Homo sapiens: one gene and its partner. The protein of the gene in region 1 purifies or fractionates together with the protein of each later gene. This does not show direct contact. Each region holds a gene or a part of one and is shown on either strand. Other genes may lie near its edges.

The links. The genes of interacting proteins can lie anywhere in the genome.
Region 2: the proteins of TSPAN5 (region 1) and NAT8L purify together in Homo sapiens (affinity purification with mass spectrometry; 3 studies listed by BioGRID and IntAct, with this or other methods). This does not show direct contact.

The regions. Positions count from the first base shown.
Region 1 is NC_000004.12:98,655,592-98,663,582, forward strand, and holds the start of TSPAN5 (tetraspanin-5), read right to left. Parts: upstream 3,021-7,991; 5' UTR 2,636-3,020; coding exon 2,555-2,635; intron 2,059-2,554; exon of another isoform or gene 1,949-2,058; intron 1-1,948. UniProt on the Homo sapiens protein: Part of TspanC8 subgroup, composed of 6 members that interact with the transmembrane metalloprotease ADAM10.
Region 2 is NC_000004.12:2,054,596-2,062,328, reverse strand, and holds the start of NAT8L (N-acetylaspartate synthetase), read right to left. Parts: upstream 3,003-7,733; 5' UTR 2,818-3,002; coding exon 2,442-2,817; intron 1,332-2,441; coding exon 1,167-1,331; intron 1-1,166. UniProt on the Homo sapiens protein: Catalyzes the synthesis of N-acetylaspartate acid (NAA) from L-aspartate and acetyl-CoA. Promotes dopamine uptake by regulating TNF-alpha expression. Attenuates methamphetamine-induced inhibition of dopamine uptake.

The DNA.
Region 1 (7,991 bases):
GAAAATGAAAATTAGGAAACCATGCTGTTGGCAATCTCTTCTTCATAATTGTATGGGAGTAGCACCGAGTCTGCTGTTTTTGGCAATCACAGACAGGTTGGTGACTCTGTAGAGAGCAGAGGTGTGTAACTTTTCAGAAGCAAGCTGCCAAGCTACTGACCCCAGCTTTTCAGTCACTAACATCTTAGTCTGAATTACTTTAACCAAAACCATATGGTTGCCTTTCTGTTGATCATCACTAGAGACCATGGTACAATAAAGCAGGAAATTTAAATATGGGGTAATTTTGAGGCAGAGAGCAGGATAGGAAAGGTATGAGGGAGTATCTGAGAGGAAGGCTTTGGGCACAGAGAGGAGAGGAAGGGAAGGCAAGAGGCAGGGTAAGTGAAGGGCCCTCATAAGGAAGGCACTCACTTAACAATTCTGCCTGGGGCAGCTAGTTTAGTCCCATAGCCTAGGTCTCCTTTCAGGCTTCCCATACTCACCCACCCACCTATGAAGACCTTCACAATCAGAAAACATGCGGCTCTGTTCTGGACCTCTCCAAGCAAGCACTCTGCAATTCTTTGAAGCTCTCTACAATTCCAGGGGTTTTGCTGCAACCTAATCCATAGAAAGGGCTAAATTTGTCTCTATGCACTCCACAGAATTACAGCAAACTGTCAGGGAAACAGACCCAAATCCTTTTATTTCCTTACCACCCCCTGCTAGGAAACGGCAGAGAAAGTCCCTGGGTGCTTTTTGTTGCTGGGTAGCTAAAATGTGCAACTTTTAGAAATGTTCAAGTAGAAACAAGAGGCCTGAACTCACTACCCCAAAAAGAACCAGTCCCAGTTCGGTAGTCCGTGCCTCTCCAAGTCACAAAGTTTCAAGTTCCAATCAAATCAGAATATCTTACTCAAAACCGTGGCTACCCACCACTTTTAAACATTTTCACAAATGGAGAAGGGGCAAAGAAAGAAAATAATTCCTTCTTCCTGTACTTGTAGCAGTGTTTAATTGCAGGGAGGTGGGTGACTGCTCCCGGGAATCATGCACAACACTGGCAAAAAACTGCCTGTGGAATGATCGGATATGACATCCATTCATGTGTCCCCTCATTATCTTTATTAGTCCTGAAGACAGATGACATGCTGACACGGAAAGTGGTCTCCAATCCCTTGCATTTCCCCTCACAAAACATACATGACCAATGCAAGGTATTATAATAGAAAACAGAAAATAAAATAACCTGGTAAGAGTGCGGTACAAAAAAAGAATATGAAGAGCCGTATTGACAACTATTCTCACAGATGTATATACGTACAGCAAACAGCCCAAATTAAAGGAGAATTCAAATAAATACATTCCGTGTTCAGACTGCTGTGGATAATTATTGATCCTGCAGTTGGAGCATTGTTTACCTCACACTGAACAGCAACTTAGAGAACCCCCTACCCAGACAGCCACCATCTTTACTTTCTATGGAAATGCGGGTGCCCACTGAGGAAGAGGATGAGATGGGATGAGAAGGGGAAGAAAAATAACATGGTCTTTGAACCAACGTTTTCCCCTTGTCCTGGAGAACTCTTTGTCTGGCTGCTGAACACGTTTGCCAGATCAAGGAAAAGAATCAAAACAAACAAACAAACAAAAAGAGTAGGCGTCCCAGCCTAATTACAATAGGTTCCCAACACATTGCAGTCCCAAGCAGAGCATCATTTGAATCTTGTGTTAAAGCATTTGCTCTCTCGGTTCCCCAATAAAACATGCCTCGCACACCTTCTCCTTTGCATTTCTACAAAGGTTCCCCCAAACGGCCCGCTCTGTGTCACTCCTTTAAAAATGAGGACGTGGGGCAGGAACACACTGAAATATATGTTGACGGTGACTTATTATCCTGACGATGATATATACATACAAATAAATCCCTCTACCCCGCACCCCCACTGACCAGTCCATTACGCACAGGGAGCGCTTTCCAGCTGAAGAGGAGAGCGTGCAGGAAACGTTATTTACGTGCAATTACAGGACCATATACCACGGCATCTGCATCCTACACAAAGCCCGAGATGGTGCAAGAAGATACACGCTGAGCATGGCACAGACCAGCCGCGGCAACACGGAGCCAAGCCCTCGTCCAATCAGATCGTTGTTAGAAGGTGGACCTCAGGGTCGGCCGTGCCCGATTAGCCTTCCCTATTATGACACCACGCTCTGCCCAACATCTATATCCCACCGAGAGCAAATCCAATTCGTGTGGTTGCTCATTTCTCAAACTGCCGAACCCTTTCTTTTATCTGCATCCCTGCTATTCGTTCCTCAAAAAGCCACCAGAAGGCCTCGGTGCCCCCTTTCCGCCTCGATTTCTCTTTTCACCTCTTCCCATTCCTCGAAAGGATTAAATGTTTATCTCTCCAACGCGCAAGCTGGAAAGGCGGAAGGCGAATGCCTCTATGCTGCTCCGGCAAGCGCCTGCGGGGCTGCGAAAAGTAAAGGCAACGAACAACGTGGGGGAAATCGTCGCGAATCGATCGGCCACAATAGTTGGAATCCCAGGAGCGCTCCAACTTACCCAAAATATGACATTGAAGCCAAATATGAAGTATTTGATGCAACAACTGACTTCAGGACCCTTGTAGTGCTTCCCGGACATCCTCTGGGTTCATGAAGACACTTGCCCCGGCAGCCCGAGTTTGGAGCTCCGAAGCACCGTTGCTCGGAGCAGCCCGGCGGGGAGCAGGAGCTCAGGGACACCGCACGGGGCCGCGGCGCTGGCGGCCTGGGCTCAGCCGCGCGGGGACCGACCGGCGGAGAGCGGCTCCCGCACCTCCAGCCCCTCGCGCGCCGAGGCCGCCGGAGCCGGGGTGGCCGCGAGAAAGCAGGGAAGCCGCGCGCTGCAAGCTCAAGCCTCGCCGACGCTAGCCCCGAACACAAAGCGAGCGCCCGCGTCCGTGCGCCAGGCGGTCGGTCCGTCGGTTCGTCCCCGGGCTTCGGGCAAAGGCGGCCGCGGCAGATGCTGGTGGAGACGCCGCTCGCTTGCTCGCCCGCCCGTTCGCGCGCGCCCTCCCACCCCTCGCTCCGCCCGCCTCTCGCTCCGCCCGCCCGGCCGGCTGCTCCTCCGCCCGCGCCGCCCGCAGCTCCGCCCGCCGCCCAAGCCTTGGCTAGGCGCGCGCGCGCACGGGGTCGGGCGCTCCCGGGCGGCGGTGGCACCACGTAGCCGCCTCCTTCCACCGCTCGCTTTATCCCCGCCCCTTCTCGGGCCAACCCCAAGCGCCGCTGACCCCGAACGTCGCTGCGGGGTAGGTAGGGGGTGGGAGGGTGGAGGACCGCAGGCGAGAGGGAGAAGGAAGGGCGCCCGGGGAGCAGGCTGGCAGAGTGACCGGGATTGATGAGCGGCGCAGCTCTGGAGGGACGCGGGCGAGAGGGTCGCTCCTCGGGGAGAGGGCTGGGTGAGTGAGGACCTGCGAGCCACCCCCGACACCCCTTCCAGGGTAGCCACACTGGCGCCCCCTCCTCCACAACAGGCTTATGTGGCTAGAGAAGATGCGATGCCACTGGACAGGGAAGGAAAGTCGTCGTGGACTTCGCTGAATGGAAAAGGGGGTAGTTGGGGAAGGTGGAGAAAAGAGCCACGGGAAGTGGGAGGAAAGGATGAAGGGATGGGACGTTGAAAAGGAAAGCTTCCTGAATCCCTGTGTGACTCTAACCCAACCTCCCCACCTACCGGAGAAATGGGTTTTATCCTAGAAATGGGGACGAGGAAAAAGAGATGGCTCAAGGGAGTCCTGGCCCGGGATGCGATCCTCGCCCTAGGGTCTATTGCAACCACACAAACCCGGACAGCGCACGCTCCCCCCTACCCCGACAGAATAGTGCCTAAGAAACCTGCTTGCCTCCTAACTCTAGGAAGGAATCCACAACGGATTCCAGGGAGGTCTTCTGGGGAATCTGAATTGGGTTTTTGGATCACGAACCATTAAGCTTTTGAACTCTGGGGAAGAATAGAACAGGTGGCTGGAAATTGTTTTAGAACCCTACCTGAGCAGGTGTGCTCATTAGTTGCTTATCCGCCCTCCTCCTGGAGCACTTTCATAGGTGTTGGCAAAGCAGGTACCAGTATTTCACGGAAGGAGAAGGAAGAACCGCCCAGGACTGTGTATAAATGTCTATGGGAATATTTTTAAGGATTCAAAAGGCTAGAAGGAGGTGAGATCAAAAAATTTTTCCAGCACCACCCAGTGCAACCCGATCCTGGACACAGAAATCTAAAAGATGATACTTAAATACTTGAGTTTGAGAGCCTCTAGTTATAAGGTTTCCTACGTAACAACCTCTCACTTTTCTCAAAAACTGGCTAGTTGACAACCGGCAGTCAAGTTTTGGCTAGTCAAGAAGCTACTTTTTCCTGCAATAAACCACATTTAGAGATAGTACTGGGCTTCAGCAGGATTGAGGCTATATTGAGGTCGCAAGTATGAACGAGGTACCCACAGAGATGGGAGGGCCAGGAGATCCTACTCATTCAGTACCTCAGAAGCTATGACACGGGATAACAGTAGCTTCAGCCCTTTGGATGAAATAATCCTCACTCCCTCAAAAGTGCTCTCTACCCACTCAAAACACAGGCCATACTACCACCAATCTGGTAGACTTCAAAAGTAAGGTCTTTCAGCAGCAGATTTCCTTGTTAACAGGAAGGTACTGACAAGCTTTACCTAAGCCTATTGGAGCTATGTTGTAATTCTGTATATAAATAGAACAGTCGCTGCAGGAATACTGGATGAGTCAGAAGAAAGGTCTGTCCTAAGCTGATGTGACACATTTCAAAAGGACCAGAAATTAGATGCAATTGATGACTGAGTTGATCTCTAAGTGGATTTATCTTTGAAATAAAAATCAGTGGATATCCCATATACCCGACCCCACACCCTCCCCCATTGTCAACATCCCCAACCAAAGTAGCACATTTGCTACAAATAGTGAACCTACATTGCCAGATCATTATCACCCAAAGTCCATAGTTTACATTAGGGTTCACTCTTGGGGCTGTATATTCTATAGGGTTGGACAAATATAGAATAACATGAACCCACCCTCATAGTATCATAGTATCATACAGAGTATTTTCACTGCCCTAAAAGTCCTCTGTACACCACCTATTTATCCCTTCCTCCCCCCAGTCTCTGGCAGCCACTGAAGTTTGACTGTATCCCTGTCTCCTTAGTTTTGCCTTTTCCGGAATGCCATATATAAGGAATCATACAGTATGCAGTCTTTCTTTCAATTTTGCTGTGAAACTAAAACTGCTAAGAAAATAAAGTCTTAAAAAGAAAAATCAATGGAGAAGGGAAAGGTAAGATAACTAATCAGTAATTTGGAGGGGGGGGTGGAAAAACTAATTGAATTATCTCATTTCGTATATCCAAAATAAGTTCTATGAGGATTAAGGAGTTAAATATATTTTAAAGCAGACCAGAAGGAAAAATATTTGTCAAACCTCTGTATAGAAGTATTTCTCAACTTAGAGGCAATAGAAGGAAATAATCAATGGATATGATTGGGTAATATCTTAAACACTTCTACGTGTCCAGCTTTTTTTAGTGTAAGCTAAACCAGAAAAAAAATTGGCAGCAAACATGAAAAATAAAAACCTGAATGTCTATATTATAAGTAGGGCTCATAGAGCTATAGTAAAATATAGAATCGCAGTGGTTGAGTATAAACAGAAAATAAATCATATAAGAAATAAAATATATGGGGAAATTAATCTAGTAATAAATGAAGTATACATTAAAACTAATAAAGATACAAAAATAATGAGCACTGGTTAGCACATACATTGTTGGTGTCCTTATGAAATAATATGTCCATTTGGAAAGCATTTTGGCTGTATATATCAGGTCAGAGTGCTCCTACATTTTGACTCAGCAGTCCCTCTTCTGGGAATCTACCCAAAGAAATACCCCAGCAGATGGAAAAAGTTATACACTGCAAGATGTATATCATAGCATTATTTATATTGAAGACTTGGCCAGAAATTAAAGATCAAAGAGTAGGGGTGATATCCAATTCCTTGTAGTTACTTGGACCACAATGTTCCTTCACATTCTGTGCCTCTGCACATGTCATTTAGAGTTTCTGCCTGGGGCATTCTCCTTGTCTCTTGTCTGTGAGCTGATTTCTCTTATTCTTCACTACTTTTGTTCAATGTCTCGGAGGCTCCTTCTTTATTCCCTCAACACCCGCTGTGTTCTTCCATCCCGGCACTTAAAGGCTGCCTGTAAGAACTTGTTTACCTACCTGTCTCCTCAATCTGCTGTGACTCCTTCTAGGGTGTGACCTAACCCTTGGTAATCTTAGAATCACCAGAGCTCTGCAGATATGGCAGGTGCTTGATAAATATTTATTAAAGGAATGAATGAGTCATTTGCTCACAGTTTTTACAGCTCTTGAAGATACTGCTTATAGAGTATGTGGCAATATATGGATACATTATAATGTTAAATTTTAAAGGCACTATATATGGAATTATCTCCAAGTAATATTGTTAAATTTTAAAAACAAGGAACAAAAACAGTGTACACAGTAGGCTATCATTTTGTGAAAAGATAAGCTCTGTTGGCAAAAGAATATCCATACACATATTTCCTTGTTAATGGGTAGGCTATCTATGGAAGAAAACGAAATAAACTGGTAACAGCGAGTTAGGGTGGAATGGGGGGCAAACTGGGGGACTAAAGATACTGATAGGAAGGAGACATGTTTTATTTTTAAATAACCCCTTTAGTCTGTTTTTGAAATTTGTACCATGTATATGATACACGTTTTGAAAAATAAAGCAGTCTACAAAACGGTATGCAGTTGTATGAAAAAAAGTTAGGAGTTAATTTTTGCCAAATAAGAACAGTTATAAGGCTGGGTGATTTTGTTTTCATGTTTCTGGTTTGCAATTTTTAAGTGTGGTTAAATTGCTTTTACAATTAAGAAGATAAAATTATACATAAAGATGTAAGAAAGTAACTAAGTAATCATATTTATTTCACGCAACTCCTTCACAACTCAATAAATGCTGATCTATTTTAAGGAGAAAAGGAGAAAAATTTTCTGTCTGAATACTGCTAAGGCCACCTCCCTTATAACTCTGAGGTTGAAAAATGGTTAATAAGTTTAACTACTGACAAGTTAATCAGCTCTTCAAGTGGCAGTGAAAACAGGTAAAGCGTGTTCTTCTAATAGTTGCCTGGCTGAGGAGCAAGATATGACAACAGCGTTTTAACCTAAGACACCAAACTTAACGAGCTTGTCTGTCTCCACCTGTGCTTTATTGTTCCTGCCCACCTTCCTGCCTCCCTCCTCTTGGGCTCTGTCATTGTCTGCCTCTCTGCTCCTCTCTGTTTTTCTTTTGCTTCTCTGTAGCCGCCCTGCTGGTTGCCTCCACACCCCTCCTGCCGCCTTCCTCTCAGAACCCTAGCAGCTGTGTTCAGCGTCCCCCTCTTAAAGCAGCCACATGCTCTGGGAAGACTGGCCCTCTGCGTCACATCTGGCAGTCCCATTCCTCTTGCTAATGTGTGGTTCAGGAATGGGCAGGTGGCCCAATTCTGGTCAACAAGCCATGAGAAGAATCTGCTAGAGGTTTCCTTGCATCTAAGAAATGGTCTCTTTCGCCCTTGGACTTGGTTGGGTTTGGATGTGATGCCTCGATCCTCTACAGCCTGATGACAAAGACCACACCAAGGATGGCAGAGTGGAAGGATAAAAAGAACCAGGGCCTTCCAGCCTTTGTTGTATGGCTGACTTAACCAACCTTGAAGGTGGCCTTACTCACGACTTCCTGTCAGATGAGACAAATTTCTTGGTTAAGATACTTTGACAGGGGTTTTCCGTTTCATACAACTGAAAGTATCCTGACTTAAACACCTTTTGAGGTTCTGCCCCAAGCCTTTATTGATTTTCTCCTCTTGAATCACCACCAGCATTTCTGCATTTCTCTTAGTACCACGTTTTTTCTA
Region 2 (7,733 bases), about 97 Mb from region 1:
CCCCCAGCACCATGTGGCCCTGGGCACACCTCACTCCTCCCAAGACTCGGTTTCCCCATGTGCACAAGCAGCTCCCAGAATCCACCACGGGCCATCAGCAGCTATCCAGCCTCTGCCCTCGTGGGGTGTTCCTGCAGCCCTGCCAGCTACCCCTCCACTCCCTCACACCAGGGAGGCCACGGCCCAGAGGGAGCAGGGCCATGCCCCGTGTGCCCACCGGAGCCCCCTGTGTTGCTGTGGCCTGTGCTTCCTCATGGCCCGTTTCCCCTCCCAAGCAGAGGCTGGCCAGGGCTCAGGGGCTGCTCAGATGCTCTGTTTGGGTTTAGGAAAGGGTCAGGGAGAGCAGCAGGCACCAAGGCCGTGGCGCGGGGGTGGAGCATGGCAGCCAGCGGTGCCAGACACTGCCCCTCCCCTGACACTGACCGGGCTCCTGACAGACCCTGCCCAACCCTTTGGGCCACACTCTGTCCCTCTCGTTGGCCTACAGACGCTCCAGGATCGCAGAGAGCCTCCCACCCCAGAGAGCAGAGTCTTCACCCCTGCGGCATCCGGCATGGGGGAACCGGTGTGGCTCAGCGGCTGGGGGCCAGCCCGAGGGTGGAGAACAACCCCCACCCCCCCTAGAGCCCAGACCCAGCTCCTCCAGCTATAGAAGGCCACAGAGGCTGGGACAAAACCCTTCAGCTAAGCGGCCCAGCGATCAGGCCAGAAGTGAAGGCCAAGGCTCAAGGTCAGGTCCCCTGCCCCCACCCCATCCTCTGTGCCCCAATAGGGTCCCCGGCCCCTGCCACACAAGCCCTCTCCCCCCAGGACCCTGGCACTGCAGGCAACCCCATCCCCGCAAGGCACACCAGATGGGACCCACAGAGCCCAGCGGCCCTTGCCCCACCGCAGCAGGCGCCAGGGAGACGCATCCACAGCAGGGAACGGTGGAGCCACTGCGTCGCAGGGCCAGCTCAGGTCACTCAGCGGGAGGAACCGGCCGTGCCTCCCCCAGCCCCGCTGACACCGGAGGCCTCGGTCACCCAGAAGGCTCAGGTCACAGGGGCCCCGGCTCAGGCCCACCCACGCCGGCCCTCGCCCAGGCCTGCCCTGAGGTCGCTGGAGTGCGTGCCCCCGAGGGCTGTCTGGGGCGGAGGTCGGGGAGCGGCGGGAGCGGGACTCACCGGGCGGCTTCATGTAGTACTGCTCGATGTCCGCCATGTCCGTGTGCAGCGCGCACTCCAGGTAGGCGCGGATCACCTTGCGGCTGTAGTAGTAGCGCAGGCCCAGCAGCGCGGCCGGCACCAGGCACGTCAGCAGCAGCGAGCGGCTCACGGCGAAGCACAGCGCTGGGGGCAGAGGGCGCGGGTCAGCGGCGCGGCGGGGGTCCCCAGGCCCCAGAGACGCCACCCCGGCGAAGCCCGCTAGGGACGCCGCGCCCGGCCGCGCTCCTGGTGGAGGAGCCGGGGTCATCTCGGGTGCTTTCTACTTCTCCCTATTTCCAAGCTTCCTGCGGTGAAGACAGCCACCCCACCCACCCCCACCGCCTGGAATGAGCCTCGGCGGGTCTCTGAGCTTCCAAACACGGCAGGACACCCTCGGGATGGCCGGGCCGGGAAGGACTCTGCCCACGCTGGCCTACTGAAGCCAAGGTGGGCAGATCCTGGCAGGGAGCTGCCCCGCAGACCAGGCCCCGCGCGGGGGAGGGGGGAGGGGGGAGGAGGAAGGGGGGTGTCCCACGTTCCAGCCTCGGGCTCCAGGACCCCCTCTTCCCAGGGCCCCAGCAAGAGCCCTTCCTGGCCAGCGTCCGGGAGCTCTGAGGGCAGGGACAGGGCAGGGAGGCCCCACACCGCTTCCAGCCGCATTTCGGCTGCCGTGACCTTGGGGGAGTCGCGTCCTCCCTACGCGGCCTCAAGCGCCTCATCTGTAAAATGGGAGCGAACCCCCTCACCCCGGCAGGAAGCTCTGAGGGGAAGGGCACCCAAAGACGCTGAAGGGGCCGCCCTCTGCGACCGCCCCGGCTGTGCCAGGCGCGCGCACCCCCCGCGGCGCCGGCTGTCTTCCCCTCATAAATTAGCACCGAGCGGGAGGCGGCCTCCCCCGCCCGCAGATTATATTTAGGCACTCGCCGGGGCCCAGCCGCGGCGGGCGCTACCTGCCCTGGCACCCGCCCCCACCCAGGATGCCCGGGAGGGGACAGGGGAGGCGGTGGGGGTGGGGGGCTGCGCGGCGGGGACGCAGGTGCGGACCCCGGACCCTCCCCGGCTCCGGCCCGCTCGGGGCCCTGCGCCCATCCCCACGCCCATAGCCAGCCCTGCGCGGGGCCCGGCGCGGCAGAAAGCGGGGGGCTTCCCAGGCTGGTCCCCGGGAGCCGGGCGCGGGGTCCGCGTGGACGCCGGGGCGGGGGAGCTCCGCGCCGGCCCGAGGGACTGCGGCAGCCGGGGGCCCGGCGCACTGACCCGCCAGCAGGGCGTAGAGCAGCTGCGCGCGCGGGTGCTGCCGCAGGCCGCGGAAGGCCGTGTTAGGGATGCGCTCCATGATGCCGTCGTAGAAGATGCGGCGCGCCGCCTCCTGCTCGGCCGCACGGAACTCGCGGATGCACACGCCGCGCCCCCCCGGCGGCCCCGCGCCCCCCGCCCCGCCGTGAGGCTGAGCCACCGGGGCAGGTGGGGGCGCGGGGGGCGCGGCGGCCGGCCCGGGCGCGGCGGGCAGCGGGGGCCACATGGCGCCGGCGGCGGCGAGCAGCGCGTCCTTCTTGGCCCCCGGCAGCGCCTCATGGTCCTCGGCGGCCACGATCTTCGTCTCGCAGACCATGTCGGGAGGCCCACAATGCATGCACCCGGCCGGGCGGCGCGGCAGCGGGGACGCGGCCGGGCGGCGGCGGGCACGGCCGGGCCCAGGGCAAGGGCGCGGCGCCCTCGGACCCGCGGCGGCGGCGGCGGCGGCGGCAGCGGCGGCGGCGGCGGCGGCAGCTCAGGGGCGCGGGGCGGAGGCGGCGGGCGGCCGGGGCGCGCGCAGGGAGCTGCGCCGCATTTTGGAGAAGTATTTATAATGCGGCGGCGCCGGTGCAGTCGCGGCGCCCGCGGCCCGCAGGGTCCTAGCGTCCACTGCATTGGCTGCCGGGGGTCACCATGTGATCGCGGGGGTGGGGGAGACGCCGCCCCCGCCTCGCCGGGTGGCTCGCTGGGCGCGACGGGGCGGCCGGGCAGCGCGAGGGGCCCGGCACGGGCGGGGGCGGCGGCGCGGGCGGGGGCTCCTGGCCCGGGGGCGTCCGGCGGGGCTCGGGACCCGGCCGCGGAGCGCGTGATGGGCGCCGCCCGCCCCGCCCCCCGCTCCCACGCCGCGCGCCTGGGAGCGCCCCGACCCCGGGCCCGACCGCTGGCGATCGCGGCGCCACGTCCTCCTCCTCCTCCTCCGCGGCCGCCCGGAGCAGTCACGGCAGCGTCTCCCGCTCCGTCTCCTGCCTTTGTTTGAAAGCAGCGCCCGCGGTGGACCTGGGGAGAGGGCGCCGCGGCTGCCCCGGCCCGGAGCCCCCGGGAAGCCTCGTCCGGAGCCGCACGGGCAGCCGGAGTGGGGACGCGGAAGGGCGGGGTCTGCGGCCTGGCGCGGCGCCCCCCTGTCCGAGCCCCGCAGTGGGCACGGGGATGCGGGGCCCGCAGGACCCCTCCCGGCCCGGCCCCCGCCCCCCGCGGCCGCGCATGCGCCCCGTGGCCTCGGTGCAGGTGCAGCGGGGGCTCTGCGCCTTGTAGGACCTGCAGACGCCGCAGGCTGGGGCGGAGAAGCTCAGGTGCGGGGAGGCGGTCGCAGACCCCATCCTCGGCGCTTCTCGAACCTAGCCCCCTTCAGTTCTGCGCGACCTCCCAGCACCACCCCGAGGGCTGCCGGAGCAGAGCTTCCCCGACATGCGCGGGCGGGACGGGGCCAGGGGTCCAGGCCTGGGGACCCGCAGTCTGCGTTGTGCGGTGGAGTTGGGGCCAGCCGGGCAGCTGAGGTCACCTGAAGGCCAGGAGGGGCTGGGCCTGCCCGTGGACGTGGGAGTGAGGCCGCAGCGCCCTGGTGGGGTGGGGAGGGGCGGCTGAACTGGTCCACAGCCCCGTCCGCCAGAGAACGGGCCCTGGAGAGGGGCAGGGGACGGGGTGGGGGCGTGGGGGGGAGGGGAAGCCAAGCTGGGAAGGCGCCCCCTCAGTGTCTGGGGCCCGCTGTCAGCTTTTCAACCTAAAGGAGAAAACAGGCAAAACGAATAGAAATAGTTTGTTGGGGCCAAGTTTGAGGACTGCAGCGTGGAAGGACAGACTCAGGTTGGTCTGAATGCACGCGCTCTCATTCGCAGCAGTTGCAAGTGCGTTTTTAAAGGAAAAATGAAGACGCAGCTCCTAAATTCACCAAGAATTTGCATTAAAATGGCATAAGCTATTGATTGGTGTACATTATTTGTCACAAATTCCAGGAACATGAAGATGACGCTGAGGCGGCCAGGCGGACACTATAGGAAAGAAAAGAAAGAACAAAATGCCTTCCAGCAGTTGCCCCGGGCGTGAGTGGGGAGGCGGGACTGAGGCCCTGTACTCAGGTGTCTCTGGGCCAGATAATCTTTGAGAATCCCACATAGCTCCGGCTATTTTTCTTTTCTCATTTCTCGTGTTTGATCAAAAATTTTCTCTTCTCAAAGCAGTGATGATCGACATTCTAGATGTAAGTTTTTCTGCTGGGAAGGCTCATTCCCGGGCCATCTCACCCCGCATGGGGGGAAAGAGGACAGGTGCGGTGGGCGCTTAAGAACTTCGTGAGGCCTCAAGGCCAAGGTTGATTGGCACGGGGTCTGTCAGGCCGTCTGCTATGAAGGAGCCACGCATACCGGATGGCTTCTGAGCATCTAGCTAGCATCCTCGGGGTTTTTTGGTTGACTTTGGACATCTAGAAACACAAAGCCTAATCAATTTAAGAATGAAAAATATGGGCCGGGCGTGGTGGCTCATGCCTGTAATCCCAGCACTTTGGGAGGCCGAGGCGTGTGGATCACGTGAGGTCAGGAGTTTGAGACCAGTCTGGGCAACATGGTGAAACTGCGCCTCTACTAAAAATACAAAAATTAGCCGGGTGTGGTGGCAGGCGCCTGTAATCCCAGCTACTTGGGAGGCTGAAGCAGGAGAATCACTTGAACTCGGGAGGCGGAGGTTGCAGTGAGCTGAGATCGTGCCACTGTACTCCAGCCTGGCAACAGACTGAGATTCTGCCTCAAAAACAAGAAAAGAAAAAGAAAAAATGACACAAATAAGGGCAACTATTAACAATTTGAAATCTAGAACTGAAGAGTGCTTCTATTTTTGAAGGTAACCAGATACCTATTTTGTCTCCTTCTGGTCCTGGCCTGAAGAACAAGATGTTGAAGTTCTCCAGTGATGGAAACGACCTCTCTGGCGAGGCTGCCTGGTGTGGTCCCATCTATTGTGGTTGGAGGAAGTCCTATATTTGATGCTTTTCTCATGAAATCTCCAGGTTGGAGACCTTGAACTTTCATGTCTTCATCTCCTGAGAACTCGCCGTTAACAGAATCCTTAATTAATTTAGAATGTGCAGTGAGAAGCTCTATAGGGTCTCGGCAATAATGAAGAATATCGCCTTTAAGGGGAGCTGGTTTGGAGGCTCCTTCATCCAGGCACAGGGCCTTCCTGGTATTATTTCAAAGAGAGAAAGCTGATGTTTTCCAAACAGGGCAGAACCCCAGTTCAGCACCACAGTGGAAACACCTTAGGCCAGGGAGTGTTAGAAGCTGGTTTCAGCATTGCAGATGGGTTTTCTATTATCCCACCTGTGCGTTCCACAGTCTGGAAGATGGAGGAGGGCTGCAAGCACAATGGGAATGCCAATCCCTCCAATCCCAACCAGCTTTCACTATGCAAGGTAAGATGTCAATCAATCTTTTTTCTTTTTTCTTTTTTCTTTTTTTCAGAGAGAGACAAGGTTTCTCCATGTTGTCCAGGCTGGTCTGGAACTCCTGGGCTCAAGCGACCCTCCCACCTCAGCCTCCAAAAGTGCTGGGATTACAGGCATGAGGCACCATGCCTGGCCAATAAATCCTTTTTTTTTTTTTTTTTTGAGATGGATTTTCGCTCTTGTTGCCCAGGCTGGAGTGCAATGGCACCACCTCTGCTCACCACAACCTCCACCTCCTGGGTTCAAGCAGTTCTTCTGCCTCAGCCTCCCGAGTAGCTGGGATTACAGGCATGTGCCACCATGCCCGGCTAATTTTGTATTTTTAGTAGAGACAGGGTTTCTCCATGTTGGTCAGGCTGATCTCAAACTCCCAACCTCAGGCGATCCGCCCGCCTCAGCCTCCCAAAGTGCTGGGATTATAGGCATGAGCCACCGCGCCCAGCCCAATAAATCTTTTATAACGTCTCACAGTTTACCCCATTCTCTTTCTTTCCACAGCTTTCTATATCCACTCTTATCTATCATTCGTTTTTATCCCTTCAACTAAACCTTTAAAAACCTCTAGACAAATTTACTCTTCCCATAACAAAAACCACATTTTCATGCCTTCTTTATAATCTTTACCAAAGACATAACCTATTTTTCTTACATGCTCTGTATTCAGAATTGTTTCTTTTACATCTAGTAGTTTTAATTATATATATAAACTACAGTGTTTTTTGAGACAGGGTCTCCCTGTTCTTGCTCAGGCTGGAGTGCAACGGTGTGATCTTGGCTCACTGCAGCCTCTGCCTCCTGAGCTCAAACAATCCTCCTGCCTCAGCCTCCCAAGTAGATGGCACTACAGACCTGCACCACCACGCCTGGCTAATTTTTGTATTTTGTGTAGAGACAGGGTTTTGCCACGTTGCACAGGCTGGTCTCCAACTCCTGGATTCAAGTGATCTGTCTGCCTTGGTCTCCCAAAGTGCATTAACTACAATTGTAAGTCAGTAACTTCAAGTTTAGTGAAAAACCTAGGAAGGAATTTTGAACTGTTTTATATCAGCATTTTTAGATGGAAACCATTTCTTTTTTTTTTTTTTTTTTTTTTTTTAGAGTCTTGCTCTGTCGCCCAGGCTGGAGTGCAGTGGTGTGATCTTGGCTCAGTGCAAGCTCCGCCTCCCATGTTCATGCCATTCTCTTGCCTCAGCCTCCCGAGTAGCTGGGACTACAGGCTCCCACCACCACGCCCAGCTAATTTTTTTGTATTTTTAGTAGAGATGGGGTTTCACTGTGTTAGGCAGGATGGTCTCGATCTCCTGACCTCGTGATCTGCCCAACTCAGCCTCCCAAAGTGCTGGGATTACAGGAGTGAGCCACCGCACCCGGCCCATTTAATAATTTTTTAGGAAGATGTTTCCTCAATTTTTTGCTTATTAACAGATCTAAATATTTTTAACTTTTCTATACCATATAAAAATACAATGCCAACGTATATCAATTTAAAATTGTGTTTAATGATTGTTTCAGTATTTTAACTGACTTAAAAATAACCTCAGACATGTTGTGGCCGGGCGCGGTGGCTCATGCCTGTAATTCCAGCACTTTGGGAGGCCGAGGCAGGCGGATCACGAGGTCAAGAGATCGAGACCATCCTGGCCAACGTGGTGAAACCCCGTCTCTACTAAAAATACAAAAATTAGCTGGGCATGGTGGCGGGCGCCTGTAGTCCCAGCTACCCAGGAGGCTGAGGCAGGAGAATCGCTTGAACCCAGGAGGCGGAGATTGCAGTGAGCTGAGATCGTGCCACTGCACTCCAGCCTGGTGACAGAGCA